Linked DNA regions of Homo sapiens. The protein of the gene in region 3 purifies or fractionates together with the protein of the main gene of each other region. This does not show direct contact. Each region holds a gene or a part of one and is shown on either strand. Other genes may lie near its edges. The genes, in order: MYO18A, NUDT5, PYCR2 and MYO1F.

Region 1 (7,086 bases), on a different chromosome or scaffold from region 3:
CAGAAGTTCGAGACCAGCCTGCTCAACATGGCGAAACCCCGTCTCTATTAAAAATACAAAAATTAGCCAGGCGTGGTGGTACACGTCTGTTAAGTCCCAGCTACTCGGAGGGTTTAGGCAGGAGAATCGCTTGAACCTCGGGAGGTAGAGGTTGCAGTGAGTTGAGATCATGCCACTGCATTCCAGCTTGGGCGACATAGCAAGACTCTGTCTCCAAAAGACAAGTAACTTCCCTTTTACTATTGTTTCTATCCTCTTCTCTGTTCTATCGTGGGGCAATGGAGGGGGCAGTCTCTGTTCGAGACAGATCCACTTCACACTCTGTCCCATTCATTTTGGGGGAGACTTTTCTCCCTTCTTCCCTTTTGGACTCTTTCTGGATGGCTGACATTATCAGAGCCTCGGCACTTGGGCTGTTTGCTATTTTTTCCCACCCATCTGTCCAAACTACTTTATTCATTCAGGGATTATAACTGGCCACACTACAGAATGAGAAGGTAGAAGGTAGAAGAGGAGGAGGGGTGTCATTTGTTTCTTGCCTTTCTGCATGAGCTGCCTCTTAGCTGTCAATGAAGGAACAAAGCATGGAGTAGGGCATGAAGACAGGGACCGAGCAGGGCAGAGACAGCACTCCCAACCTATTCACATTGCCCTGTGGGCCCGAGCTAGTTCTGCCAAGTTTTGATCAAAAAGTCACCTTTGAAATGGCTAAAATTAAGCTTTTAAAAAATGTTCTAATGAGAAGGGCTTGAATCCAAAAAGAAAGAGAATGAAAGAAAGAAAGAGAGAGAGAGAGGGAGAGAGGGAGGGACGGAAGGAGGAAGAGAAGAGAAGAGAAGAGAATCTCTGTAATTGGTGAGATTTAACAATCAGAGGGACCTCAACATTCCCTTGTGGAGGCTAGGGAGGATGAGGCTTGGAGTCTCTGCCACCCTTGCTAACCTGAATCACAGTCCCTAGGCTCTTCACATAAAAGGTGGGGCTTGTGTCTTCCTTGGCCAATCCCCTCATTCCACTACCTCTGCCTGCCCCAAAATGAGCTGCCTAGGCTCTTTAAGTGGCACTGGTCTGACACTTTGGGGAGCAGGCCAGAGACCAGGGTGATGCCCTCACGGTCCCCATCAGAATCCTGCCTCTGCCCACCACCCCCAGGACCAATCCAGACTTTGCCTGAGCCTGAAGGAACAGGCAGGAAAACTGGCGCAGCCAGGAGGAAAAGGGCCTTTATTTCCATACATCGGGTAAACAGGGGAGAGCACAGCCCAGTGAGTACAAACCAATTGCAGGAGAGAAGGGGGGCGGCAGATGGGAGCAGCACCAGGCACTGCACTTGGGCTCCCAAGTCTGGTGGAGTTCTCAGGGATAACCTTTTTAGGGTGGGGGCTGGGACCTCCAGACCACATGGTGTTGTGTCTGGGATAAGTGTGTGGGGGCAGGGAGGTTGGAAGAATGACACGGGCTCAGGACACAGAGTGAGGACTCATGTCTAATGAGCACCGGCCAAAACTTCCATCTTCAGTTTTTCTGATCACAAGTCCTCAACCCCAAGCCTTCCCTCTCAAGTTGAGTTTATGGTCCAGACCACCTGGACAGAGCAGGAGGGAGGCAGTGCTTGGATCAGCCCTGAACTGCTGTAGTTGGAATGGGTTTACCTTAAATAGGTCATTGCACATAACACGCTGAGACAAAGAGGGTGGGGTGGGGGCTGGAGGTGCGGATGGTCCACACACACACTTGTCTGCGTAGGCTTGCTCAACCCAGCCCAGCAGCACCGGAGAGCCCCTCCGCACCTCATTCTTAAGAACCTGGACCCGGCTCTCCTCACCAGCGTCTCCAGCTGCACAGAGAAAGGACTGCTCTCTGAAGGGTGAAGATGGAGATGACATTCCCGAGTCGTTCTTGGGAGCCCCAGCTACCACTACAGCCCCCTCCCACTCTCAGGGATGCAGCTGTGATGGAGAGGTTGGGTATTTAAATTAAAAAGTAGAAAGACAGCAGGCACCAAGAAGAGAGAGCCCCCACCCCACACGAGAGGGAAGGCACTGCTTCTCCTCCCCCAATCCTCCCCATGGACCCAGCAACCTAGAGTGTCCCAGTAGGCAACCTGTCCACCGTCCCTGAGCAGGGAGCTGAGAGGGAGGTCAACGTGCTGGCTCCATGCAGTGCCAGGCCACCTGCCACTGCCCACGGTGACACAGGGTAGAAGCCAAGAGTCTGGCATTTTGAGACAGAGGAGCAAAAAGTTCTCTTCAGAAACTCCTCTTTCCCCCACCTCTTCCACGTGGAGACATCAGACACCCATAGCCTGGAAAGTGCCCCTGACAGAAGAAGGTCAGGGTGTTTCCCATGCAGATCAGCAGTCGGGTGGGGGAGACCGGTGCCCCACCACTTCCTGGGAGAGGTGCCCAGGCAGCCACAGGCCCTGGGGTGAGAGGGCTGCCAACCACTCCCCTGGGCTATGCGTTAGTCTCCGTCAGCTTGGCCTCTGTGTCGCTGTCACTCAGATAACTGTGGGAGTATCGCGGTCTGGAGGTGTTGTCGAGAGGGTCGTGCTCATCATCTGACCGATCAGGGGCAAGGGACTTCCAGTAGCTGGTGGGGCTGCAGGGACCGAGGAATAAGGTTAGGGACAAATGACACTCCTACCATTAAGCACGCACGCCTTTGGTTCTGGAGGCCCACAAAGCTGCGTCAGAGCACTCCCCAAAAGCCAAACATTGTTAAGTAAAAACCTTCCTTGGCTTACTTAGAAGATACTCAAAATGCTAAGAGGAAGGAGACTCTGGAAGCTTTTAAAGCTCCGAGGAAAGGGATGCTGAGAGCAGTGAGTCTCGGACTCAAGCGTGCATAAGAATCTGATGCAGGTTCCTGGGCCCTTCCTCTTAGAAACCTTGAATCGCTGGCTTTTGGGTACAACCCAGTAATTCTGCATTTTCAGTCCTTCCCCAGAAGGCTCTGAAGCAGGCAGTCCGTGAACCACATTGGCTTGGAGACTGGAGGTCTGGTGAGTACAACTTGTCTAGGGTAGGGGCTCTCTTAGGCGAGTGATTCCTAAAAAGATTCCTTCTGAGGAGGAGGCGCTTTCCCTGTCAAATACTCCCAGATCTGAACCCTTTCCCCTAATGATGGCTCCCTGAGGCCTGTGAGAATTTTCAGCTTTGACCATGCCATCATCTACTAACAAGAAATGGAGGCTCAGGAAGGAGAGGCTGGGAAGACCTGTTTTAGGATGGCCCAAGGGGAAAAGCCCCTTTCTTGGTACAATAACATAACTCAGAGTCTTCATCAGGCCTCTGGCTCTGGAGGCCTCCAGCTATCCCAGATGTGAAGAGGCCTCTTCCCCCTGATGGAGCAGGATCACAGCACTGAACAGGGAAGAGGGGACCTCATCTCACAGCTCCATTCACCTTCTCTTTTCTTTCTCCCAAAGCCTTGGGGCCACCTTTCCCGTACTCCTCCTGCCTCCACTGCCTCCGTCAGTTCAAGTGCACTCTCGTTTCAACACCATTGGAGAAAACACAGCCCAGTGTGGCTCCTCTCCTACTGATGCCCCACACTCGGCGTGGTCCCTGGAGCTGCAGCCCTGCCTCCAGATCCTAGAGTTCCAACTTGGGCAAGCAGGAGTTCCATGTTCCCTGCTGCCTATAATTCTGACTTAAGCTGAAAAGGGACCTTTGTTTACTAGCCCTTTTAAAGTTCTATCCCCAAACCAAAATAGGAGGAGTCAGCGTTCTGCGGCAAGAACCACCTTCTTAGCTTTTCCCAAGGTGGCAGTGAGAGATGCAGAGGGCAAGATTTGGTCACTGAGTACTCCTATGTGTAAGACACGGCCTAGGCATGTGAGATAGGCTATCTTACTCTTCACAATAACCCTATGAAATATTACGAGGAAGCCAGTCCAAAGAGATGAAAGGATCTTCCCCAAGGCCACACAGCCAGTATGTAAACTTGAATCTGGGACTCTTAGACCTCAAAGACTTTGGACGACTTCACCCCGCCACTCGATTGGTTGACCTGAGATTAAAAAAAAAAAAAAAAAAAAAGGACCAAACCTGAATTCTCCTGCTGGCTTGGGCAAGTGCCCAGGGGTTATGTAAAGAAAGGTCGGTCTCTATCCCTGGGGGAAAGGAAGAGGCTGATAGAATACATGTTCAATTATGCAAAATGGTTCAGGAATGGGGCAGTCTGGTTAATAGTTATCGTATTTCTCATGAATGAATTACCATTTTTAAAGGAATCAGGATAGCACAAAACACATTTAACACAAACTAGACTGAACATAAATGAGTCTTACTTTGATAGGCCAAAGGCACTTAGGGACTCTGGGGGGGTTTCTAGGACAAAATTATAAAGCTCACTGATGACTATGCAATATAGAAAAAAATTGGGGTTATTTTAGCTTTGGGGTTGTTTGAATTCTAAATTAGTGGGAGCCTGGTTTGGTTCTCATTCTTTACATAGAATTTCTGGGCACTCAGGGCTAGGATCTGCCGTTAGGCTAAGGAGTGCCTGGCTTTGTGGAAAGACAGTGGGGTTACTTTGTGAGCAGAGCGGGGCGAGGCAGATGCCAGGGCTGGAATCCAGATGCAAATGAGGTGCTGCTGGCGAGCTCCAAGGCACTGTAAATTGCTGAATCAGGGCCCCTCTGGTCCTTTCCATTGCCTCACCTCTTTTTAAGGTGGGGGCTCCAGTCCCCAAGCCCACATTCCTGTACCTGCTAGGCAGACACCTGGATAAATGACAGCCGTGTTTCCATACTGTTTCATCAAGACGCTGGGCAGTGGCAGGAGCTGCCGGGGAGGTGGTAAACTCCATGTCTCTCTCTGCCTTGGGCTGCGGACCCACGAGATTGCCCTTGCCCGTAGCTTGGGTGATCTTTAGCCATTCTTAGTGGCTTCCACTGCTCCAGCCATCAGGGAGTCAACAGCAGGCCGCTGCCCTCCTCTCCAGGGCAAGAGTCAGAGCTGGCAATTTGAACATTTTAACCAAATTGTTTAAAAAAGCCTTCCTCCTCACAAGCCAGCGTCTCCTGCTCAGCACTGTCACAAACAATTTGGTACATAAGCTAATTCCTGCCAGGCAAGCCCAGGGCGGCAGCTCCCCTCCCCTTGACTTTGCTATGGAAGCTGCGTTCCTGTTGCAAATTCTTGCTGGTCCTCATCACCAGATGGGAAGCTAAGTGACTGCTCCATCCCATGCCCCCACCCCAAAGCCAGTTGATGCTGAGCACCACTGAGGTCCTCCCTCCCCTGGCCTTCTCCCTCTGGCTCCGTGTTGGTTGGCTAGGTTCTGGCTTGATGGCCACTCTACCAACAGTGAATCCAATCCTCCTTGGAGCGGGTGGTATATATGGCGTCAGGACTACTCCAGCTTTCCTGGTGGAAAAGAGGAACTGCGCTGGTGGCTGGTGGAAGAAACAGGCTTTTGGTCTTTTTGTTATTGCTGGTTGTGGGGTCAAGGGTGATGGTGGGCTGAGGGCATTGGGGTCTGAAATCTGCCAGTTGCCAGTCAGTGTGGGATGGCCCAGCTTTAGGCCCATGTCCATCTGGGGGTAGAGGCGCAGTGTGCAACAAGGCCTGGCCCTCTTTGCTTTCCAAACCCCTCTCCCAGGTCCATCAGCTGACTTCCTGCCCTAGGGGTGTGGGGCACTTAGCAGGGCTGCTAAGAGGAAGGCTGAGATGCCTGATCAAATATTGACTCATATATATATATATTTTTTGAGATGGAGTCTCGCTCTGTAGCCCAGGCTGGAGTGCAGTGGTGCGATCTCGGTTCATTGCAACCTCCGAGCCTCCCGGGTTCAAGCGATTCTCCTGCCTCTGCCTCCCAAGTAGCTGGGACTATAGGCATGCGCCACCACGCCCAGCTAATTTTTGTATTTTTAGTAGAGACGGGGTTTCACCATCTTGGCCAGGCTGGTCTCAACTCCTAACCTCAGGTGATCTGTCTGCCTCAGCCTCCCAAAGTGCTGGGATTACAGGTGTGAATAACCATGCTCGGCTGACTCTTGTCTTACTATGGAGCCAACACTGGTTCCTTGGTACAACAGAGATGCTTCCTGTTCCTCCCAGAGCACCCAGTAACCATCTGCTGCATGGGGGAAGTGACAGAGCAGGGCTGAGCCATTCCACTTGCTCCATTCCTTAAAAGGTCTTACATCAGTCCGTTTGGTATAATCCATTCAAAGTCAGCCTAGGTGTCCAGCCGCTCCACAGCACAAGCATGCGACAGGTGTGTTAGTTCATGCATCTGGGAGACAAATGTCTGTGCCCCAGGGGCTGCACTCGGGGGACATACCTCCTGGGAAGCAGCAAGCTTGCCCTGGGAGGGCAGCATGCCAAAAACAGCTTCACATAAGCAGGGTGATCTAAAATGTCACCACGCACCAGAGAAACTGGCAACAATGGGATTCCAATGAGTCAGGCTCTGCCCTTCTTCCATGGTGGGGGTGTGGGCATAAAGGGCCTAACTGCTAGATCTCCCTCCCCACAGGGAGAAGAGCTGGGGGAGGCAGGAGAGCCAGGGGGAGGCTGTCACTCAGCAGTTGCTAATTTCTATTCATTAGAACTTTACAAGATGAGTAGAACCAAGGTGACGCCCATGTGTGGGCCTTTGGTGGGAGGGCTGGGGAGGGAGTCAGGCATCTCCTGGGTCTGCTGTAGGGTGTGGCGCTGTGTGGGCTGTAGCCCTGGGAGCCTTGTACTCCTAGGCTTGAGATCTATGCCAGAGAGGAAGGTAGCTTTGTGGGGGCAGGGTAGGGGAGGGAGAGCTAAGCAAAAGGCCCAATAATAGCTTAGGGCCACTGATGTGCACCAACCACAGCTGGGGTATAGCTTGGGACCTTTCCTGGCCCCAGCCTGTTGGGGCCATGAATGAAAGCTCCTGAATGGGTGCTGCTGGGCACACACAGTAAACATGTTGCCCATGTGCTCTGCACTGGCTGCCTGGAGGAGTGGGTAAGGGCAAGAGTGCTGGAGTTGGGCAGACCCCATTCAGACCCTGGCAACAACCCTTCCCAGCTGTGCGTGACCACATGGCAAGTGACTTAACCTCTCCAAGCCTCAGCTTCATCTTCTATGAAACAGA
Region 2 (7,409 bases), on a different chromosome or scaffold from region 3:
TGTGCCATTTATGGTAAAAAATTTGGGTACCCACAATTGAATTCACTTATGGGTTTTTTTTTCATTCTCTTCAGGTGTGGCAGTTGGGTGGGCAGGGAGTAATTAACGTTTACTGAAATTATGCTACTTGGTGATCTCCAGGAATCATTTAGCAGGTGGTTTAAAATCCTCACATTTAATGCTGGTTGAGCAAGAGTGAACTGACTGTAATGACCCTTGGGAAGGTGAATTGGTTACAGACGTATAGTAACGACACTGTAAAGATAGTCCAGGCAGGAGATGACAGGTCTGGAGTAGAGTGGTAGCCGTGGCAAAGTGACATTTAATTTCCACGAAGACAGTTTTAAGGGAGACTGGGACATCGGAAGAAAAAAGGGGTGATGCAGAGCTCAAATCTGTACACGCTTGTTTGAGGTGATAGCAGACATCCAGATGAAGAAAACCAGCAGACAGGTGAAAATCTTAATCTAGGATGATTAGTCATGCTATGGATTCAGAGAAAGAAATGTGTTTTTTCATTACTTCATTAGGAATTGCACAATAAATCTCCTCCCCCATAATCACATGACTACTGACTTTTCAGCATGCAGGAGAAAAAGCAAATATTTCCACTGTTGAAAGGTTTTATTGGAGAAACTTGATGAATACAATGACTTCATGGCTTAGTGAAGACAACCACGGTGGTTAAAATACAGTGAACCCTCATTTAGCTGTATCCATTCAAAGTATTTGAGCATCTCCTATGTATAATGTCAATTTATTTGATGCTGGTTAAATGTGTAACAAGTTACTTAAAACCAACTGTAATACCAAAAAGTCATTGAACACACTTCTAAAGTATACTGCCTGAATAAAAGGTATCTATAAAAATTCCTTCCCTGTAGTATCTATATATTTAAGCTTACAAACTTAGCTGCTTTTCTACACACAACTGCAATTCTATATTAAAGCTTTGCAACTGCCTTAATCTCTACACTCTTTTTTTTTTTTTTCCCGAGACGGAAAAAAAAGAGTCTCGCTCTGTTGCCAGGCTGGAGTGCAGTGGCGCGATCTCGGCTCATCGCAACCTCCGCCTCCCGGATTCAAGCGATTCTCCTGCCTCAGCCTCCCGAGTAGCTGGGACTACAGGCATGCGCCAACACGCCCGGCTAATTTTTGATATTTTAGTAGGGACGGGGTTTCGCCATGTTGGACAGGCTGGTCAAACTCCTGACCTCAGGTGATGCGCCCGCCTCGGCCTCCCAGAGTGCTGGGATCACAGGCATGAGGCACCGCGCCCGGCCTATGCTCAAATGTTTCTTGGGCTGTTAAAGTACTGCTCCTCGCAGAAGGGCTATGTTCCCGGGATCTATTCTCTTCCGTACATTCATTCCTATCTTCATTAGAAAACATCTGACCTAAATAAATCCCCCATCGATGCTAACATCTCCTTCCGCGCAATTTTTTACTTTCTAAGTCAAATCAAAACAATTATTTGAGCGACTGCTCCTGTCTGCCATTAAGTCTTTCTGGCACCACCCTCCAGACATATATACAATATTGCTTCTTTCCCTCAAATCAGAAAGGACTGCATAGTTCCGGATCAAGGCATAAATGATGAATCATGACTGTCCATCCCCACCAACATACTCTGCAACATTATAATCTATTTACCTCTGCTTTGAAAATGTATTCTTTAAAGCACTGCTTCCAACTAGCCACTTAGCCAGTAACATTTTTGAGAAAAACAAAACACAACCCAAAACAATGTATATATTCCTGGGGGGAAGAGTTTCTAACTCAAAATACGCAGATAATTGTTTATTATTCTAAGGAACACCCTTCTGAAGAGGCCTGCAGTCGGTGGGGCTGTTTCTAATTTAAAACTACTTAGGTGAACCAGGAAGAATGTACATTTAAGGAGATACTTTTAGACGCAGATGCCTCGCGCAAGCCTAAAGCTCGTGTGGTAAGCGACACGACTAGGGGTTAAAAGCGGCTGGTTGGTAGGCCCGGGGCCGTGGCTCACGCCTTGTAAACCCAGCACTTTGGGAGGCTGAGGCGGGCAGATCACCTAAGGTTAGGAGTTCGAGACCAGCCTGGCAAATATGGTGAAACGCCGTCTCTACTAAAAACACAAAAATTAGCCGGCGTAGTGGCGCGCGCGCGCTCTCAGCTACTCGAGAAGCTAAGGCAGGAGAATCACTTAAACCCAGGAGGCGGAGGTTGCAGTGAGCCAAGATTGCGCCACTGCACTCCAATCTGGGCACAGAGTGAGACTCCGTCTCAAATAAATAAATAAAAGCAGCTAGTTACTTCTCATTCTTTTAACGAAACAAACAAAACTGAACTTTGCTGGGTGACAGGAGTGAAGCAAAGGAAAAAACGATAGTACAAGTTCGATTCGAATTCTTCCAGTCTTATGATTCGATCATCGCAGGAATACTGATAAAAATCTGCGTTTTTTCCAGGTTGACAACTTTTGCGAGGCCAGACTAAACGAATTCAGCGCTCCAAGGAGACTCCTCTTTCCTCTGCTTTCTCACATTTACCTCTCGCCTTTTACCTCCCAAAGTCGAACCCTCCAGGATCGTACAGGCGGTATTCCCTCTACCAAGCATTCTACTCCTCTGCAGATGCTGCAATCTTTACACTGGAACTAACACTTAGCTGTGGTGTTCCCCGCTTTCTTTACTCGGAGTAGCCCAGGCTCTTCCTCTCCAATCCACAATTTCCCTCCAATCCCCAGTTTCCCTCTTGGGCGCCTGGACGCGTGCCCAGCCGCAGCCTGGGAGACACCGCGCGGCTGCACGCACCATGCAGATGTGGTCCCTTTCCCCTTCTTCTTCTCCTCCCCAAAGAGGTTTTGTGCTGTGACTGGCTTGCCCCGGTTACTTACTCCAAGGTGTAGGGGTGAAGAACGGAAGAGGACGAAATAACTAGCTGGAGGCAGCAGTGTCAGCCGATGCCGGTGCCACGGCTCGAAACACCGGCGCCTCTCGCGGTGCTAAAAGGATGGGCGCGCACCCTCCTTCCGGCATCCGTAGAACCCCCGCCTTTGACCTAGCTTCAGGAGATTACTTTCCGGGTCAGCGTGCGTTTAGGGCGAAGACGGAGTTGTAAACTTCTTAAAATTCCTCTCTCGACACTTCGGTAATTCCTCTTTCGAGACTAAAGCTCTTTTTGTATGCGTGTGTGTCAAGCGTATGCCCCGGGATTCTCCTCCGCTTCCTTTTCTCGGTCTTCCTTCTTGCTTTAGGGACCGGAAGAGTCCTTGAACCAAAATAGCTCGGCGGGCACTTCCGGGGCCGGCGCCCAGAGTTCCGGGAGGGTGCAGGCAGGAGAGGGAAAGGCAGCAGCGGCGGCAGCTGGAGGATGAAGAAGGAGCATGTGCTTCACTGCCAGTTCTCCGCGTGGTACCCGTTCTTCCGAGGCGTTACCATCAAGAGGTGAGATGGGAGGGGGTTCGCCCGGTCGACCGGCAAAAGGGAACTGCGACTTCTGAGCGAATCTTACTGCTATCCAAAAAAATGCAGGCCTTCTAGCGACTGCATGGGAGGGAGTGTGTCGAGAGGGAAGTACATCAGCAATTGTCTGCGTCCTGTTGCGAGCCAGCGAGTGTGCTGGCTAGGAGGGTCAGTTGTGGTTTTCAGTGAGGGTCGGAGGCGGGAGGAATAGTGGATTAACCTAGTTTAGGCTTGGGAGTTCACCACCACTACTTTTAGAATGGCCCCAGGCGCAAGGTGATCACTGCCTAAGTGCACTCGGAGAATTAATTGCTTTTCGCCATCACCCCAGAGGATGGAGATTGGGAAGGTGAAAGGATACGTAATTACAGTTAGATACGAGAACAAGTTCACAGATATGTCGTACAGCATGGAGGCTATAGTTAATGACGATATACGTATTCTTGAAAAACGGAGAGTGGATGTTAGTGTTCTCACCACAAAAATAACTATGTTAGGCAATGCATTTGTTAGCTAAATTTATTCCACAGTGTATATATACTTAAAAACATCAGGTAGGCGGCAAGTATTAATATATACAATTTCATCTCTCAGTTTTTTTAAAGGCGTTGATAGAAAATCTGGGCTTTGCACTTAACTGATTTTCTGAGCCAACATTTCAGTAATTGCTGATTCATTATATGATGGTTTCATTCAATAAAGATCGGATATGTACTTGAAAATGTGTAACTGGCTTAGAATGGTTAAAATGTATAAGAAAAGTTTCAAGTTCTTAAATAGTATTGGAATGTGTGGTAGAACCTTAGATTCATTGTACTTAACAATTTCGCTTGTTAGCTTTGTAAGAGTAAAATACTTAGGAAGGCTTATTTGTAATCAGCAAATAGACATATTAAGAAAGAAAATTGAGTGGTTTATGAATAGAATTTAAAATTTTAAAGAGACTTTTAAGTTGCAAAGTTTCGCTTGAAATTGTTTAAAATTTAGTAGATTTTCAAACGTAATAAGATTTGTTAGAAGAAATTAAAAGCCTGAAGAACTAGATTTTTTTTTTTTGAGACAGAGTTTTGTTCTGTCGCCCAAGCTGGAGTGCAGTGGCAGCGATCTTGGCTCACTGCAAGCTTCCCTTCCCGAGTTCACGCCATTCTCCTGCCTCAGCTTCCTGAGTAGCTGGGACTACAGGCGCCCGCCACCACCCCCGGCTAATTTTTTGTATTTTTAGTAGAGGCGGGGTTTTCACCGTGTTAGCCAGGATGGTCTCGATTGCCTGACCTCGTGATCCGCCCGCCTCGGCCTCCCAAAGTGCTGGGATTACAGGTGTGAGCCACCGCGCCCGGCCAGAACTAGATTTTTGAATGTGAAATTGTACCTTTGATAAATCAAATATTTATTTTTAAAACCGAAGTTTTTGCTCTGTCGCCCAAGCTGGAGTGCAGTGGCAGTGATCTTTTATTTATTTAAAAATAAATAAAAATACTTATTTTTAAAACCGAAGTAGCCCATGAATACTCTTTTTTGTGCAAAAAAACCATTTGTAATGTGCCAAAAAAAACTTCTTCCATAAATAAATGAGACATGTTATAAGTCATTGATGTTCTGTTAACTTCGGGAAAGCAGGCTGTAATCTTTTCCACTTTTTGAAGATGTATATGCCTCAAAATCAAAATAATACCAGCACTCTTAGGGATCTGTGGTAGGGCTTTTTGATAATTTATTATTTCAAGGTAAAAAACAAATTATCCCATAAGTTTTTAAGAGACTTCAGGTATGGCTTTGCCATCCTTAATTATGATTACCTGAAACAAATTAAGCTAAAGCATGCCTAGTTTAAGCAGCTTTATATCTCTGGTGATCAGTTGAATAGAAAGCCAGCAAGACACATCCAAAAGTATCATGAATTCTTAGCGGTAGGTGCTCACTGCCAACCCAAGAATGGTTTCCAGATCTTGACTCTACTTCTGCCCTCTATCTTTAGAAGGTGACCAAATGCTAGTCATCTTCTAGTTGGGTTTGCTGCATTTCCTGTGTTGCAGCAAATATCTGCTGGTCTCTGATTTCTTAAAGACACATAAATGTTGTGCTCACTCAGAATCCTTTTGAGCTTGTTGCTTTCATACTGTGATTTCCATCTGGTGGTTTGGATTTGGCTGGTTTTTGTTTACTACAAAGACCATTGTGGCAATAAGATGAACCGCAGTAATCTTATTATTCTGATTTCTTGTCTACTGCTACCAAATGTACATCATTAACATTTTCTACTTTATATTAAAAGAAAGACAATTCCAAAATTAATCAAGTGTAGAGATTTTTCTCTCTGCTTATAGTTGGTCTTTTAAAATGATGCCTTTTTTGGTGTTTTTTTTTTAGTGTCATTCTTCCACTTCCTCAGAATGTGAAGGATTATTTACTCGATGATGGAACTCTGGTGGTTTCAGGAAGGTAAAGTATTTTAGAAAAAAATTTCTTAAACTTTATCATAAAGAAACACATAAAATGAATGAATTAGCTTAGGCACCATTCTTTCCCTTTAGCTCTTTTTCTCTCCTAGCCAAAATGATGTGCTGATCTTTGTCTCATATTCCTTCTCAATGTTCACTTAATATTTTCAACATTAAGTACTTTTCCCTCTAATAATTACAAGTTGTGAAATTGAGCAGTTCCTTTCATCTCTGTCTTTAGAAAACAGTTATGATGACAACTTTTCCTTCTGACGGTAGCAGGGTGGGGGAAGTACATATTAAAATTCTTTGAGATCCTTCAGTTTTGACGATTAAAAATTCACTGTTGCAAACAGGCTTTATCATCTAATTCCTCAACATTTTCTTCCCCACGATTGAACTACCGTGGCCCCCCCTCCACTTTCTAGAAGCTGTTCAGGTAGTTTCCCTATTTATAGAATAAAGGGAAGAAGTTACTGTGTTTCAGTCTTTTGGATGCAAACTTGAAAACGTTGAAGAATCATAGGATTTAGTGAAGTTCTCATTTTTTAATTCGAGTCTGCTCAGAAGTCACGTTATGAGTGTTCAGCCCTCACCAGCCTTTCTAAAATAGCCTGACAGTAACCCTATGCCCTGACCTCCCTTCATTTTTCTGCATAACACTTACTTCCACCTGACAATTGTTAATTGTTCCATTAGAATGCAGTTTCATGAAAACAGGGACTTGGCCCATTTGTTCACCCCAGCTCATGGAACAGTGCCTGATATAGCAGAAGTGCTTGATAAACATTTGTTGGATGAAGGAACTATAGAAATACAGTAAGAATTGTGTGTTTTCAGTACTACTAACTGGACCCCATATTTTTGCCTGTTGGGTTTTTAGTGTGGTTTTCTGGATTATATTTCTGTTTTTGGTATTCACAGAGCCTCAATAACCTGAAAATTATTAATGTAGCGCCTCATTAACTTTGAATAATTTGAGGCTGAGGAAACAGTAGGAAAGTCAGATAAGTCTCAACTTTAGGATATTTACAGATATAATTTTTTTTGTTTTGTTTTTCTTTTGAGACAGAGTCTCGCTCTGTCACCCAGGCTGGAGTGCAGTGGCGTGATCTCAGCTCACTTCAAGGTCTGCCTCCCGGGTTCACGCTATTCTCCTGCCTCAGCCTCCAAGTAGCTGGGACTACAGGCGCCCACCACCACGCCTGGCTAATTTTTTTTATTTTTAGTAGAGATGGGGTTTTACTGTCTTAGCCAGGATGGTCTTGATCTCCTGACCTCGTGATCTGGCTGCCTCGGCCTCCCAAAGTGCTGGGATTATAGGCCTGAGCCACCGCACTCGGCATTTTTTTTTTTTTTTTTTTTTTTAAAGATGGAGTCTTGCTCTGTCAGCCAGGCTGGAGTGCAGTGGCTCAATCTCAGCTCACTGCAATCTCTGCCTCCCAGGTTCAAGTGATTTTCTTGCTACAGCCTCCCAACTAGCTGGGACAACAGGTGTGCGCCACCACATCCAGCTAATTTTTGT
Region 3 (7,519 bases):
AAAGAATGCAAAAATGCACTCAAAAATGCGCCTCTTTGGAGAGGCTCCTAGGACAGGGAGGATTGAGGGCCAAGGCACTTGCCATCTGTTTATCTGGGAGCAGCACAGGCTTCTCTCTCATTTCCTAGGTCATCTCAGTTCTTAGGAGAGACTGGCCTGCTGTTTAGAGATAGGAGAGACTGGCCTGCTGTTTAGAGGGAGGCCCTGAGGCCCTGATAGTGAAGAAGCAGAAGTAGACAGAAGTGAAGCAGTATCCATTTTGTCTGAGACAGCTGGAGAGGGCCATCAGGCAGGACAGAGGGGAGTGAAGAGGGAGGAAGGGTACAAACAGCAGAACCTGACTGGTGGATGAGAGGATGGGAGTAGAGGGGTGAAGGTGGGCAGTCCTGGCAGCTTTGTGGACGTGTCTGCTCCGAGACAGCAAAAGGATAGTGGGTGCCCAAGGAGACAAGTGCCAGCAGGGACTGAGCATGTCCCATGGCAGGATGGCAGTGCAAGGCTGGGGTGTCCTTTAGGGTGGCTGGATGGGAACGAAGGGCTTCCCCTCTCCTCTCCTCAACTTCAGTTCAGAGGAACTCCACAGGCATCAGATGTGACTGCCTTAGAAACCAAGGCAGTGGCCACAGCACCAAGGAAATGGGACGTTAGAGTCAGCAAGGTCATTAAAAGAGAATAAAATGGTCTTACCTATATTTAAAATAGGTAACAGGCTGGGTGCGGTGGCTCATGCCTGTAATCCTAACACTGGGAGGCCAAGGAGGGAGGATTGCTTGAGGTCAAGAGTTCAAGATCAACCTAGACTAACATAGTGAGACCCCGTCTCTATTTTATATATATATTTTATATATACATATATTTGGGTTTTTTTTGTTTTCTTACTTTGTTTTTATTTTTTGTTGTTTTCTTTTCTCTTTTGCTCTTTTTTATTTCCATCTTATATTTTTAAAAAATAAAATATAATAGATTTTGTATATATAAACTTTAAACTTTGGAGATGAAAAAATAATAGATCAAAACTACCACAAAAAAGAACAGTTTGTGGTCAGTGGCTCACTTGCTGCCCTAAGTCCAAACTGAGGGGAGCAAGTGCTTTTGCTACTCCGTGTCTTATGTGGCCAGTCCTGGCTGGGGATGAAGCCAACACTGGGGGTCACCAACATGGCCTCTTTTTTTTTTTTTTTTTTTTTTTTAGACAGAGTCTCACACTGTCACTCAGCCTGGAGTGCAGTGGCACAATCTTGGCTCACTGCAATCTCCACCTCCCAGGTTCAAGCAATTCCCCTGTCTCAGCCTCCTGAGTAGCTGAGATTATAGGTGCCCGCCACCACATCCGGCTAATTTTTTGTATTTTTAGTAGAGATGGGGTTTCACCATGTTGGCCAGGCTGGTCTCGAACTCCTGACCTCAGGTGGTCCATTCGCCTCAGCCTCCCAAAGTTCTGGGATTACAGGTGTGAGCCACCGCACCCGGCCATCCTTTCTTAGGCTTTTGCAGTTCTCCCATTTCACCCTGGCTCCCGGAAGCGGAAACGGGAGATATCAACGCAAGGCAACCAGGTAAGGGATGGGTGTATGTAAGGGGTCAGAAAGGAGTGAGACACAAGTGTCCCCCACACCTCACTCCAAAACACACATTCAGCTTCAGCACAACCTCCTGTATTGCAGGTCAGATCCAGAGCTCCCCACAACAGACCACAGCCAGGAAAAGCAAAGGGCCCTGCAGTGCCCTGGTGGACTATGGGGAGGGTGAGTATCCTGCAGAGGAGCAGGCAGCATTAGGAAGTTGTGAAGGAGGGTAAACCCCCAACTTCCTCACTACCTGACAAAGACTCCTCTACAACAAAAGGGAGGCCAAATGCAGGCAAACAGAAATGAGACAAAGAGAAGAGGGGAAGTGCTGGCAGCGCAGTGTTCTAGTTCCATTCCTGAGGTCCTGCTCTCTGTAGGTGCCCCTTCTGGTCTGTGAGCTCCCCTGTGCCTCTCCCAAGCGCTGTACAGAAGCCCCCCTTTTCCTTCAGCCAGTTTGGTTTCTGCTGGGTTTCTGGTTTCAGAGCTTTACGCTGGTAACCATTAGGCTATGCTGCAACATGGCAGCTATGGGAGCTCTTAAAGCCCCAAACCACTGGACCTTACAAATCTCACTTCTGGGAGTCATGTTAAGAAAATAATGAGTCAGGCAAAGATTTTATCACAATAATATGAACAAAAATTTAAAAAATTGAAGGCCAGGAGTGGTGGCTCATGTCTGTGATCCCAGCACTTTGGGAGGCTGAGGCGGGTGGATCACCTGAGGTCAGGAGTTGGAGACCAGCCTGGCCAACATGGTGAAACCCCATCTCTACTAAAAATACAAAAATTGGCCAGGCGTGGTGACACATGCCTGTAATCCCAGGTACTCGGAAGGCTGAGACAGGAGAATCGCTTGAACCCGGGAGATGGAGGTTGCAGTGAGCCGAGATCATGCCACTTCACTCCAGCCTGGGTAACAAAGACTCCGTCTCAAAAATAAATAAATAAATAAAAATAAGAAATAATAATAAATTGATGTTTTATGAGGACAGGAACTTGTCTGTTTTGTTCATAGCTATACTCCCAGAACCTGGCTCAGTAAGTTATCTATTATATAAATCAATAAACCTAACATTGACCTTTGAATGGTTAAATCAGTAAGGTACATACATATAATAAGTAGTCATTAAAACTGTCTTAAATAACTTTTCAGTGACATTGGAAAATGCTCATGTCTACTAGAGAAATTTCAAAACTACATGTACATCATTTATTTCCAATGATGGAGAAAGTAGATATGCATAGGACATGATAGTGTAAGGAAATACACCAAAAATGTTTGTAAGAAACTATCTTTGGGAAGTATGATGTGGATGATTTTATTTTTACTTTTATCTCCAAACTTTCTTCAATATGTCTGTATTACTTTTCGAATTTAAAAAATACAGAGGCCAGGTGCTGTGGCTCACGCCTGTAATCCCAGCACTTTGGGAGGCTGAGACAGGCAGATCACCTCAGGTCGGGAGTTCAAGATCAGCCTGACCAACATGGAGAAACCCTGTCTCTACTAAAAATACAAAAAATTAGCCGGGCGTGGTGGCGCATGCCTGTAATCCCAGCTACTCAGGAGGCTGAAGCAGGAGAATCGCTTGAACCCGGGAGGTGGAGGTTGCAGTGAGCCGAGATCGTGCCATTGCACTCCAGCCTGGGCAACAAGAGCGAAACTCTGTCTCAATAAATAAATAAATAAATAAATAAATAAAACATAGCATTATTTTGCTTAATAGTAAATATTATATTTGGTCCTCACTTTAAAGGGTGCACAAACTGAGGGCCTGGGGACTTGCTCAGGGAAGTTCACAGAAAGCAGCCCCTTGCCTGGGAGTGGGGGTGTGCATTACACGGAAAGGACTAGAAAAGCTAGCAGAGAGACCATGGGAACTAAGGGTCCTCAGCTCTTCTGAGTCCTCTAGGAACGCCACCTTCTTCCTCTCTACTTCTGTCATTTGTTCCCTGCGGCCCCTTATATTTACTACTGATAGAAAAGGAAACATCACATTGGTGGAGCTTTTAAAAGCAAGAGACAGGTCGGGCGCGGTGGCTCACGCTTATAATCCCAGCACTTTGGGAGGCCGAGGCGGGCGGATAACCTGATGTCAGGAGTTGAAGACCAGCCTGAACAACATGGTGAAACCCCGTCTCTACTAAAAATACAAAAATTATCCGGTCGTGGTAGCGGGCGCCTGTAATCCCAGCTACTGGGGAGGCTGAGGCAGGAGAATCGCTTGAACCCGGGAGGCGGAGATTGCAGTGAGCCGAGATCGTGCCACTGCACTCCATCCTGGGCAACAAGAGTGAAACTCCGTCTCAAAAAAAAAAAGGCAAGTGACAGCAAGGGGCTGGGGGGTGCGGGATCGCGGAAGAGTCGGAGACTCGAACTTGTCCTTCTTGTATCTAGTTTGGACAAATTCGCGAGAAACACTCAAGTTCAAGTGAATAAGCCGCGGCTGACCACCCTGGTGCCGCCTCGCCGCCACCTGGTCTGAACCTCGCCGCCACCTGGTCTGAACCTACGCCAGGAGGGCCTCGTTCATCCCCGCAAATCGGCAACCTGGAGAATTCCTGTGGGCCTTGAGGGGCATCTGATGGCCAGCGCCAGAAATAATATTAGCCAGGCCTGGGCCAGGCCTCAGCCCTGAGCCCGAGGTGGCTTAGGGACGGCGACCTCAGCCTTGGGGTGGGGGGGGGGGGTGGGGGCGGCCGGGCGTCCTGGGCCGGCGGGCGCCTGGAGCTCACGCCAAGCTGCCACAGGGGCTTCCGGGACTCCAGCCCGGAGTTCCGCCCTCCAGTCGCGAGCGGAGGAGGCGGGCACGCGGCCTGGCTCGGGCCGCGGATTGGCCTGCCCCGAGATCCTGGCCACTGATTGGTCGCCCGGACGGGGCGGGGCCACGTGGCCTAAGGCGCCATCAGCCGCCCGGGAGATATCCGCCGGGGGAGAATAGGGTTGCACCATCCCAGAAGCTGCTGTTAGCTCGCCGGTCCTCGGCACGCCGCCCGTTCGCCCCTGCGCTGTCCGCCCTTCCCCTAGCGTTACTTCCGGTCCCTCGCTGAGGGGGTTCGTGCGGCTCCCAGGAGGCGTGAACCGCGGACCATGAGCGTGGGCTTCATCGGGGCCGGCCAGCTGGCCTATGCTCTGGCGCGGGGCTTCACGGCCGCAGGCAAGCGCGTGGAGGCGGGAGGCGGCTTCGCGGGCGGTCCCGAGGCCCGAGGGGGCCTCCGTCCCACCAGCATGAGCGAATGAAAGGGGAGTTTGCGTCCGGTGGGGTAGATGAGACTCTGGTTGAGCAGCAAGTGCGTCTTCTGTCCTCGTAGAGGGTTGAGGGGGAGAGGGAGACTGGCACTGTTAGGACGGCTCTGGGTTTTAGAGCCAGGGAAAGCGTGGTAACGGGCTGGGCCGCGACCCCTAGTTGAAAAGCTCTGTCTTCTGCAGGCATCCTGTCGGCTCACAAGATAATAGCCAGCTCCCCAGAAATGAACCTGCCCACGGTGTCCGCGCTCAGGGTAGGTGGAGCCGGGCGGAGTGGGAAGCGGGTGGAGGCCCAGGAAAAGGATGACCTGAGATGAAGTGAGTCTGGCCGGCCCCTGCGCCCAAGTGCTGGTCTTTGGCCGGCGGTGACCTTTACTCCAGGAACGTGACAATCTTTCCACCTTCTCTTGGGCAGCTCAATGTGGTGGGAACACCCAGGGAGACATAACTGGGGGTCAGATCCAGACACTGGAGTGGTAGAGGATTAACTGAGGTGATTATGTGATGAAAGCACCTGGCACATAGTAGGTACCTAATAAATACTCATTTTTTAAATTTTTTTTCAGACAGGGTCTTACTCTGTCGCCCAAGCTGGAGTGCAGTGGCGCGATCTCAGCTCACTGTAACCTCCGCCTCCCACCTCAGCCTCCCACCTCAGCCTCCCGAGTAGCTGGAATTACAGGCATCCACCACGCGCAGCTAATTTTTGTATTTTTGGTAGAGAATACTGTTGGCCAGGCTGGTCTCGAACTCCTGGCCTCAAGTGATCTGCCCGCCTTGGCCTCCCAAAGTGCTGGGATTACAGGGGTGAGCCACTGCGCTCAGCCATTTTTCTTAATAGACGAGTTGTATGACCTTAAAGTACTCAGCCACTTTGAGGCTATTTCCTCATTTACAACAGTGGCCACTTTGCTGTTATTCTGAGTCGTGAATGAGCATATTGGGAAGAATCTGGTGAGTTAGTTGTTCTGTTCTCCAAAAACATATTCCAAGTCTTCACCCAAAACCTGTGCTCTGTGGGAGAGGATGGCTGATGAGGCAGGTGACAGGCAGTGTCTGTGCCTAGGGTGGGCTGATGTCCCTAGCACTGGAGGGTCCTGCTTCTCAGTTTGGAGTCATAGAGGGATGGATGGCTTCCAGCCTAGCCCTGGACCACATGGAGACTGTGCGGTCCCCACGAACAAGCGGCCAGGGTTAGGATAGGGCCTGACTCAGCTGTGCTTTTAACGACCAGGTATTAGCATTTCCCTTTGCCCTGCCACTTTCACCATAGGGCCTTCTTACCTGGCAGAGGAGTGCCTTAGATACCAGAAGATTGGCAGGGAAGAAGGGCAGCCACTTCCTGGTTACCATGGAGAAGCTTGTCATGCTCCAAGCCTGTGCTTACTTGTCCAGTAGCAACAATGGGAAACTGTATTATTTGGGGTAGGGGTAGAACCCTGAGGGCATAAAGCTAAGAATTCCAGGCTGCATCTGGCAGAATCGGTTTGGCAGGGGTTCAGCTGCTCCCTGGGAGGCCTTGGCATAGCCAGGCTGCTCCAGCACTGTGAGCTGGGAGTCTCCTCTTGCAGAAGATGGGTGTGAACCTGACACGCAGCAACAAGGAGACGGTGAAGCACAGCGACGTCCTGTTTCTGGCTGTGAAGCCACATATCATCCCCTTCATCCTGGATGAGATTGGGGCCGACGTGCAAGCCAGACACATCGTGGTCTCCTGTGCGGCTGGTGTCACCATCAGCTCTGTGGAGAAGGTGCCCATCTCAGCCCTGATGCCCCTTGTGTGAGGGGAGGGTTGACCCACGAATGGCAGCTAATGGGTGGGTGCTGGTGGGAGCCGTGCCCTGGCCACTCATTCGGCTCTCTCCCTCACCCTAGAAGCTGATGGCATTCCAGCCAGCCCCCAAAGTGATTCGCTGCATGACCAACACACCTGTGGTAGTGCAGGAAGGCGCTACAGTGTACGCCACGGGCACCCATGCCCTGGTGGAGGATGGGCAGCTCCTGGAGCAGCTCATGAGCAGCGTGGGCTTCTGCACTGAGGTGGAAGAGGACCTCATCGATGCCGTCACGGGGCTCAGTGGCAGCGGGCCTGCCTATGTGAGGCCCTCATTTGCTCGCTCAGCCTTCTAGGAACCCAGGCAGCAAGATGGGCTGGCAGGCAGGCTTGGACTGGGGGTGGCGCCCACCTCTTGGGCACAGCTGGCTGGTACAGGATGCTGACCCTTGGAGCTAGTTCTAGTCATCAGAAAGCAGACCTAAGGAAAGGCCCTTCAGTGCCTATGGCCTGGGGCTTAGTGAGTGTCTCCACAGGCATTCATGGCTCTGGACGCATTGGCTGATGGTGGGGTGAAGATGGGTTTGCCACGGCGCCTGGCAATCCAACTCGGGGCCCAGGCTTTGCTGGTCAGTATCTTTCCCCCGCATGTTCAGGACCAGGGTGTAGAATGGGGGTTCTTGTGCATCACTGAACTGAGGTGGGAGTTGGTTGGGAAGCTGGGGTAGCAGTTGGGCAGGAGCAGTGGGTATGGGAAGCCTGTTCCAACGCACACCAGCAACTTTCTCCTAATGTGCCCTTCCCCATAGGGAGCTGCCAAGATGCTGCTGGACTCGGAGCAGCATCCATGCCAGCTTAAGGACAATGTCTGCTCCCCTGGGGGAGCCACCATCCACGCCCTGCACTTTCTAGAGAGTGGGGGCTTCCGCT
Region 4 (7,086 bases), on a different chromosome or scaffold from region 3:
AAAAAGAAGAAATAAAGGAAAAGAAAGAAAAGAAAATCTAATGCCCCGCTCCATGGTCCATGGAAAAATTGTCTTCCATTAAACCGGTCTCTGGTGCCAAAAATGTTGGGGACCATTGCTTTACAGAGCACATAACATGCACTTGATCCATGGTAGCTGCCATTAGCTGGGATGTCCATTCATTTCTGGATTCAGCAATGAGGATGGACGGAGGTGACGATTGTGGTAATTGGGGAGGAGTTGCTGCGAGTGGTCATTGCTGGGTTGTTGGTGTCATTGGTTGTGGTGGTGGTTGTGGCTGTTTCTTGTTGCAGGTTCGTGGTGATAATGGCTCTTGCAGGTGGGCTGGTGGTGGTGGCGGTTGGTGTTTAATGTTGTTCGTTGGTGGTGGATTGTTTTCAGCTGGAAATTCTGGAGATGCTTGGTGACCAGTGGAATGATGACCATCGGTGGTTGCTGTTATTTGGAGAGGAAAGGTGTTGGTAGTAGCGTTCATTTGCTGCTGGTAGTTTATTGTTGGTTTCTGGTAAGATGATGATCAGCAATGGTGGTGCTGGTTCAATGTTGGGTTTTGAACAGGATAGGACTGGTGACTGCTGCTTTCTGTGGTTGCTAATGGTAGTTGGTTATGTGTGGTTGTTGATGGCTAGTATTGTTTTTTTGTTTTGTTTTGTTTCTGAGACAGAGTCTCGCTCTGTCACCCCGGCTGGAGTGCAGTGGTGCAATCTCGGCTCACTGCAACCTCCACCTCCTGGCTTCAAGCAATTCTCGTGCCTCAGCCTCCCAAGTAGCTGAGATTACAAGCACCTGCCACCACACCCAGCTAATTTTTGTGCTTTTAGTGGAGACGGGGTTTCGCCATGTTGGCCAGGCTGGTCTCCAACTCCTAACCTCAAGTGATCCACCCGCTTTGGCCTCCCAAAGTGTGAGATTACAGGTGTGAGCCACTGTGCCTGGCCGATGACTAGATGGTGGTTGGTTATTATAGCGTGGTGGTGGTGGTGGTGGTGATCGTGGGAGAATGTAAGGAAGGCTGATGCTGGAATTGCTCATGGGACCTGTCTGACATTGGCTAGTCATGATGGTATTGGAGTTATCAGCAGTTTCTGTTTGTCTTTGAGAAGGGTAGGAGAGAGAGTGAAGACGTTCACTGGTTGCCTTTGGTTGGTGATGGTGGTCATGTGAGGATAATAGTGATTGTCTCTTCTTTTTTTTTTGAGACAGAGTCTCGCTCTGTCACCCAGGATGGAGTGCAGTGGCATGATCTTGGCTCACTGCAAGCCCCACCTCCTAGGTTCATGCCATTCTCCTGCCTCAGCCTCCCGAGTAGCTGGGACTACAGGCGCCCGCCACCATGCCTGGCTAATTTTTTTCTATTTTTTTAGTAGAGATGGGGTTTCACCGTGTTAGCAAGGATGGTCTCGATCTCCTGACCTCGTGATCTGCCCGCCTCAGCCTCCCAAAGTGCTGGGATTATAGGCGTGAGCCACCACACCTGGCCAATAGTGATTGTTTCTAAGGTACAGTCACAGGGCCAGGAACAATGGCTCATGCCTGTAATCCCAACAGTTTGGAAGACGGAGGTGGGAGGATCACTTGAGGCCAGATGTTCGAGACCAGCCTGGGAGACATGGCAATACCCCATCTCTACAAAGCATTTAAAAGTTAGCCAGGCATGGTGGCATGGACCTGTAGTACCAGCTAATTGGGAAGCTGAGGTGGGAAGATCACTTGAGCCCAGGAGTTCCAGGCTGCAGTGAGCTGTGATGGCCCCACTGCACTCCAGCCTGAGCAACAGAGACAGACTCTGTTTCTAAACAAATAAATAAGATACAGCCACAAAGCAGGGAGACCAGTGAAGTGGCTGCTGGGTCCAGAATCAGTGGCCATGAGGATGGACAGGAAAGGCTGGGAGTCAAAAGGAATTTAGGAGAAAGAATCAGTTAAGACCACTAACTGGGCACGGGCACAGTGGCTCACACCTGTAATCCCAGCACTTTAGGAGGCCGAGGCAGGTGGATCACTTGAGGTCAGGTGTTCGAGACCAGTCTGGCCACCATGGTGAAACCCCATCTCTACTAAAAATACAAAAATTAGCCAAGCGGGGTGGCATGTGCCTGTAATCCCAGCTACTCAGGAGGCTGAGGCAGCAGAATCGCTTGAACCCGAGAGGCAGAGGTTGCAGTGAGCTGAGATCGCACCACTACACTCCAGCTTGGGCAACAGAGCGAGACTCTGTCTCAGAGGGGAAAAAAAAATGCCCATAATTGATTGGATGCAAAGAGTGAACGTAACAATGAATCAGAGACAGGCAGGTTTCTGTCTTGGGGGTTGGGGACCACATCCCAGAGGATCTTCCCCAAAAAGCAGGAGGGACAAGACCAGGGTTCCCCAGCTCCAGCTTCTGCGTGGAGATGTTTGAGACGGTAGCCACCGACTGTCAGCAATCTCCAGCGACGAGACAAAGAGCCCAGCTCCAGAAAGACAAGGGTCCCCACGTATAAAGGCCAGGCGCGGTGGCTTACGCCTGTAATCCCAATACTTTAGGAGGCCGAGGCGTGCGGATCACGAAGTCAGGAGATCGAGACCATCCTGGCTAACACAGTGAAACCCCGTCTCTAAAAATACAGGGGCTGGGCGCGGTGGCTTACACCTATAATCCCAGCACTTTGGGAGGCCGAGGCGGGCAGATCATGAGGTCAGGAGATCGAGACCATCCTGGCTAACATGGTGAAACCCCGTCTCTACTAAAAATACAAAAAATTACCCAGGCGTGGTGGCGGGTGCCTGTAGTCCCAGCTACTTGGGAGGCTGAGGCAGAAGAATGGCGTGAACTCGGGAGGCAGAGCTTGCAGTGAGCCGAGATGGCGCCACTGCACTCCAGCCTGGGTGAGAGAGCAAGACTCCGTCTCAAAACAATAAAAATACAAAAATACAAAAAAAAAATTAGCCGGGCGCGGTGGCGGGCGCCTGTAGTCCCAGCTACTCGGGAGGCTGAGGCAGGAGAATCGCTTGAACCCAGGAGGTGGAGGTTGCAGTGAGCCGAGATCATGCCACTGCACTCCAGCCTGGGCAACAGAGTGAGATTCCATCTAAAAAAAAAAAAGAGAGAGAGAGAGAAAAGAAAAGAAACAGAGTCCAGTCCCCCTGCTCCCCTGAGGGATGGAGCCTTTGGAGGTGAGAATGTTGTTTGCACAGTGCATGGACGCAGGGTGTGGCCCCAGAGCCCCACTGAGCTGGGGGCAAGGCTCCAGGGCCACCCTCAGGCACCAGGGCAGGGTCTGGGAGCTGAGAGCTGGCTCCAGAAGCAGCTACGGAGGCTTAGCTCTCCTCCCGGCAACCACAGCTCGCAGGACCTGGGTGAGGAAGGAAGTGGCTGTTTGTTTGCTGTCTTCAATCTAGAGCTCTTGCTCATCACGCCCAGAAAAAGCAGACAGCCTGGAGCCCATGGGGTGAGTTGCAAAAGCTCCCTCCTCCAGCCCTTCCTCCTGGCCAGCTCATGGCCACCATTGATGGGGACAGTGAGGAACGCTAGCATTTACACTGGACAACCTTTGCTTCGTTGAATCTGCAGAGCAGCCTGTGAGATTTGCACCCCTCGATGTTCCCATTTTCCGAATGAGGAAACTGAGGCAGAGAGGTTAGGTGAGCTGCCCAATCTAAAATGAAAGAGGATTTTGACTCAGTGACTCCCAAGGCCACACTATTAACAGCCATCTTGGCCGGGCACAGCGGCTTGCACCTGTAATTCCAGCGCTTTGGGAGGCCAAGGCAAGAGGATCAGCAGTCCAGGAGTTTGAGACCAGCCTAAGCAACATAGTTAGACTTTGTCTCTATTTAAAAAAAAAAAAATGTGGTTGGGTGCGGTGGCTCATCCCAGTGCCCGTCATTCCAGCACTTTGGGAGGTCAAGGCGGGCAGATCACTTGGGGTCAGGAGTTCAAGACCAGCCTGGCCAACGTGGTGAAACCCTGTCTCTACTAAAAACACAAAAATTAGCCAGGTGTGGTGGCGTGCACCTGTAATCCCAGCTACTCAGGAGGCTAAGGCAGGAGAATTGCTTGAACCTGGGAGGCAGAGGTTGAGCCAAGGTCATGCCACTGCACTCACAGACTGAGCAACAAGAGCGAGACTCCATCTCAAATAAAAAAAAAAATGTGGCTGGGTGCAGTGGCTCACGCCTATAATCCCAGCACTTTGGGAGGCCGAGATGAGTGGATTGCCTGAGGTCAGGAGTTCGAGACCAGCCTGGCCAACATGATGAAACCTGGTCTCTACTAAAAATACAAAAATTAGCCAGGCGTTGTGCACGCCTGTAATCCCAGCTACTTGGGAGGCTGAGGCAGGAGAATCACTTGAACCTGGGAGGCAGAGGTTGCAGTAAGCCTAGATCATGCCGCTGCACTCCAGCCTGAACAACAGAGCAAGACTCCATCTCAAAAAAAAAAAAATGTATTAGCCAGGCGTGGTAGTATGCACCTGTGGTCCCAGCTACTCAGGAGGCTGAGGCAGGAGGATTCGCTTGAGCCTGGGAGGTCAAGGCTGCAGTGATATCAAACCACTGCCTTCCAACCTGGGCAACAGAACAAGACTCTGTCCAAAAAAAATAACAGGCACCTTGACCACAGCCTCCTGTCCTCCTAAGCAATGAGAGGCCAGCAGGACTATGTGCTGACCCCACATGGCCTGGGCTGTCTATCCCTCCAGGACCATGACCCTCCATTCCAAACAGACTAGAATCCTGGTGTCCACCACACACCCAAGGCCTCTCTGGCTGATGTCTCTTGCAGCCACCACTGATGCTGCCTGGAAAGTTCATGTTGCAAGACGTGCCTTCTACAGGAAGCCCTCTCACCTCTCCACAGTACTTTCCAGCCATGGTCTCCTCTGGGCAACTGAGACACCACTTGGGGAACACCGAGCCCCCCAAGGGCAGGTTCTGGGCCTGGTCCACCTAAGCCTGGTCTCCACCTACCTCCATGCACAGTAGGGGCCCAGGAAGTGTGTTCCCTCCATGGCACACATCCCCCAGCCCCATAGGCACCATCACCTTCACCACAAACAGCCCCTCCCTGGTGTGATACCAGGAAGGTTGTCCCCGCCTGCCCTAGTTCTGCCTTCAGCCTTGGGGTAGAGAGACCTCTCTGAAGAGCTGAAGGAAGAAGCTACCCGTCCTTCCTACCCCACCCACCTCAAGCCCCTGACTGCCTTTCACAAGAGCTCCAGCAGGTTGAGTCATATTCAGCTTGTGGTCAACTGTGACCACAAGCTCTTCGTTGCATCCCCACCCCCAAGGAAGAGACTTACAAACAAACAGTTTTGACTTGACCCATGGAGACTTGGAGGCCACAGAATGAGAGAGATATCTGGGAGACAGGGCAGGGGGCAGTCTCATCCCAATAGGACTTCATTCATTCATTCATTCATTCAACAAGTATGTATTGACCAGGCTTTCTGTCCAACACTGATGCCTTAAATCCTCTCAAGGTCACAGATGACATTTCCTGAGGCATCTCGGCGCATTTTTTCTCTTTGTTCGCTCCTGTACTTGTTTCAGAGACCCCACACAAGGGTCATTATGGAATCCATTTGGTTATTTGTTGTTGTTGAGATGGAGTCTCGCTCTGTTGCCCAGGCTGGAGTGCAATGACGTAATCTTGGCTCACTGCAACCTCCACCTCCTAGGTTCAAGCAATTCCCCTGCCTCAGCCTCCCGGATAGCTAAGACTACAGACACCCGCCACCACGCCGGGCTAATTTTTGTATTTTTAGTAGAGATGAGGTTTCACCATGTTGGCCAGGCTGGTCTTGAACTCCTGACCTCAAGTGATCTGCCTGCCTCGCCTCCAAAAGTGCTGGGATTACAGGCGTGAGCCACCATGCGCGGCCAAATCCACTTGCAAAGAGGAGAAACTGAGGCTTGGAGAAGAGAAGTGACCTCCCCAGAGTCACACAGTCAGTCAACTGTCAAGCCAGGCTTTGACCCCAATCCATCACATGCCAAAATTCTCGACTATCCTCCCCACACGATATTCACTTGAGCAAAACCCTCTCTCCCTTCGATGCAAACAGCCTGTGATTAATTTTTTTTTTTTTTTTTTTTTTTGAGACGGAGTCTCACTCTTTCACCCAGGCCGGACTGCAGTGGCACCATCTCAGCTCACTGCAAGCTCCGCCTCCCAGGTTCACGCCATTCTCCTGCCTCAGCCTCCCGAGGAGCTGGGACTACGGGCGCCCGCCACCGCACCTGGCTAATTTTTTGTAGTTTTAGTAGAGACGGGGTTTCACCGTGTTAGCCAGGATAGTCTCGATCTCCTGACCTCGTGATCCACCCACCTCGGCCTCCCAAAGTGCTGGGATCACAGGTGTGAGCCACCGTGCCCGGCCCAGCCTGTGATTTTACAGGTGGCTGGAGCATGGAGTGTCTGAGGGCCTCTAGTGCCTGGGGCAGGATAGAGAGGGAGAGAATGGTCAGAGAAGAGGGCCACTCTGCCAGATGAGGAAAGAGGGGAAGGGCAGGAAGAGGAACCAAGTCGTCAGAGCCGGGAGAGCCAGGAGGGCTGATGGGCCTAGCCAGACACAGCTGACCCCAGTGAGGGGAAGTGGCCTGGGGTCTTAGTTCAGCCTGAGTGGCCTGGCAGGCTGAAGCCTGCACTGGCCCCCAAAGGGGAAATTGTAGACATGACCCATCTTCTCCCCAACCCATCCTCATCTGACCTCAGCAGCAACCCCGGCGATCTCTGATACAGACCAGCCTGGGGAAGGACAGCTTCGTGGGTCCTCCCCAAGGTCCTCTCTGCACTGCTGTGTGTCCTTGAAGAGGACACTTAACCTCTCTGTGCTGTAGTTTTCTCTTCTATAAAATGGACCCAGGATGGGTGCGGTGGCTCACGCCTATAATCCCAGCACTTTGCGAGGCCGAGGTGGGAGGATCACCTGAGGTTGGGAGTTCGAGATGAGCGTGCCCAACGCGGTAAAACCTTGTCTCTACTAAAAATACAAAAATCAGCCAGGCGCCTGTAATCCCAGCTACTCAAGAGGCTGAGGCAGGAGAATCGCTTGAACCCAGGAGGTGGAGGTTGCAGTG

The links.
Region 1: the proteins of PYCR2 (region 3) and MYO18A purify together in Homo sapiens (affinity purification with mass spectrometry; 3 studies listed by BioGRID and IntAct, with this or other methods). This does not show direct contact.
Region 2: the proteins of PYCR2 (region 3) and NUDT5 purify together in Homo sapiens (affinity purification with mass spectrometry; 3 studies listed by BioGRID and IntAct, with this or other methods). This does not show direct contact.
Region 4: the proteins of PYCR2 (region 3) and MYO1F purify together in Homo sapiens (affinity purification with mass spectrometry; 2 studies listed by BioGRID and IntAct, with this or other methods). This does not show direct contact.

What each region holds. Positions count from the first base shown.
Region 1 is NC_000017.11:29,072,314-29,079,399, forward strand, and holds part of MYO18A (unconventional myosin-XVIIIa), read right to left. Parts: intron 2,602-7,086; coding exon 2,457-2,601; 3' UTR 1-2,456.
Region 2 is NC_000010.11:12,192,892-12,200,300, forward strand, and holds the start of NUDT5 (ADP-sugar pyrophosphatase), read right to left. Parts: upstream 3,001-7,409; 5' UTR 2,879-3,000; intron 1-2,878. Other genes in the region: CDC123 (translation initiation factor eIF2 assembly protein), read left to right, coding at 3,355-3,428, 5,814-5,885. UniProt on the Homo sapiens protein: Enzyme that can either act as an ADP-sugar pyrophosphatase in absence of diphosphate or catalyze the synthesis of ATP in presence of diphosphate.
Region 3 is NC_000001.11:225,921,251-225,928,769, reverse strand, and holds the start of PYCR2 (pyrroline-5-carboxylate reductase 2), read left to right. Parts: upstream 1-4,519; 5' UTR 4,520-4,659; coding exon 4,660-4,726; intron 4,727-4,998; coding exon 4,999-5,069; intron 5,070-6,386; coding exon 6,387-6,566; intron 6,567-6,627; exon of another isoform or gene 6,628-6,690; coding exon 6,691-6,912; intron 6,913-7,125; coding exon 7,126-7,218; intron 7,219-7,398; coding exon 7,399-7,519. UniProt on the Homo sapiens protein: Oxidoreductase that catalyzes the last step in proline biosynthesis, which corresponds to the reduction of pyrroline-5-carboxylate to L-proline using NAD(P)H. At physiologic concentrations, has higher specific activity in the presence of NADH.
Region 4 is NC_000019.10:8,567,442-8,574,527, reverse strand, and holds part of MYO1F (unconventional myosin-If), read left to right. Parts: intron 1-7,086. UniProt on the Homo sapiens protein: Myosins are actin-based motor molecules with ATPase activity. Unconventional myosins serve in intracellular movements. Their highly divergent tails are presumed to bind to membranous compartments, which would be moved relative to actin filaments.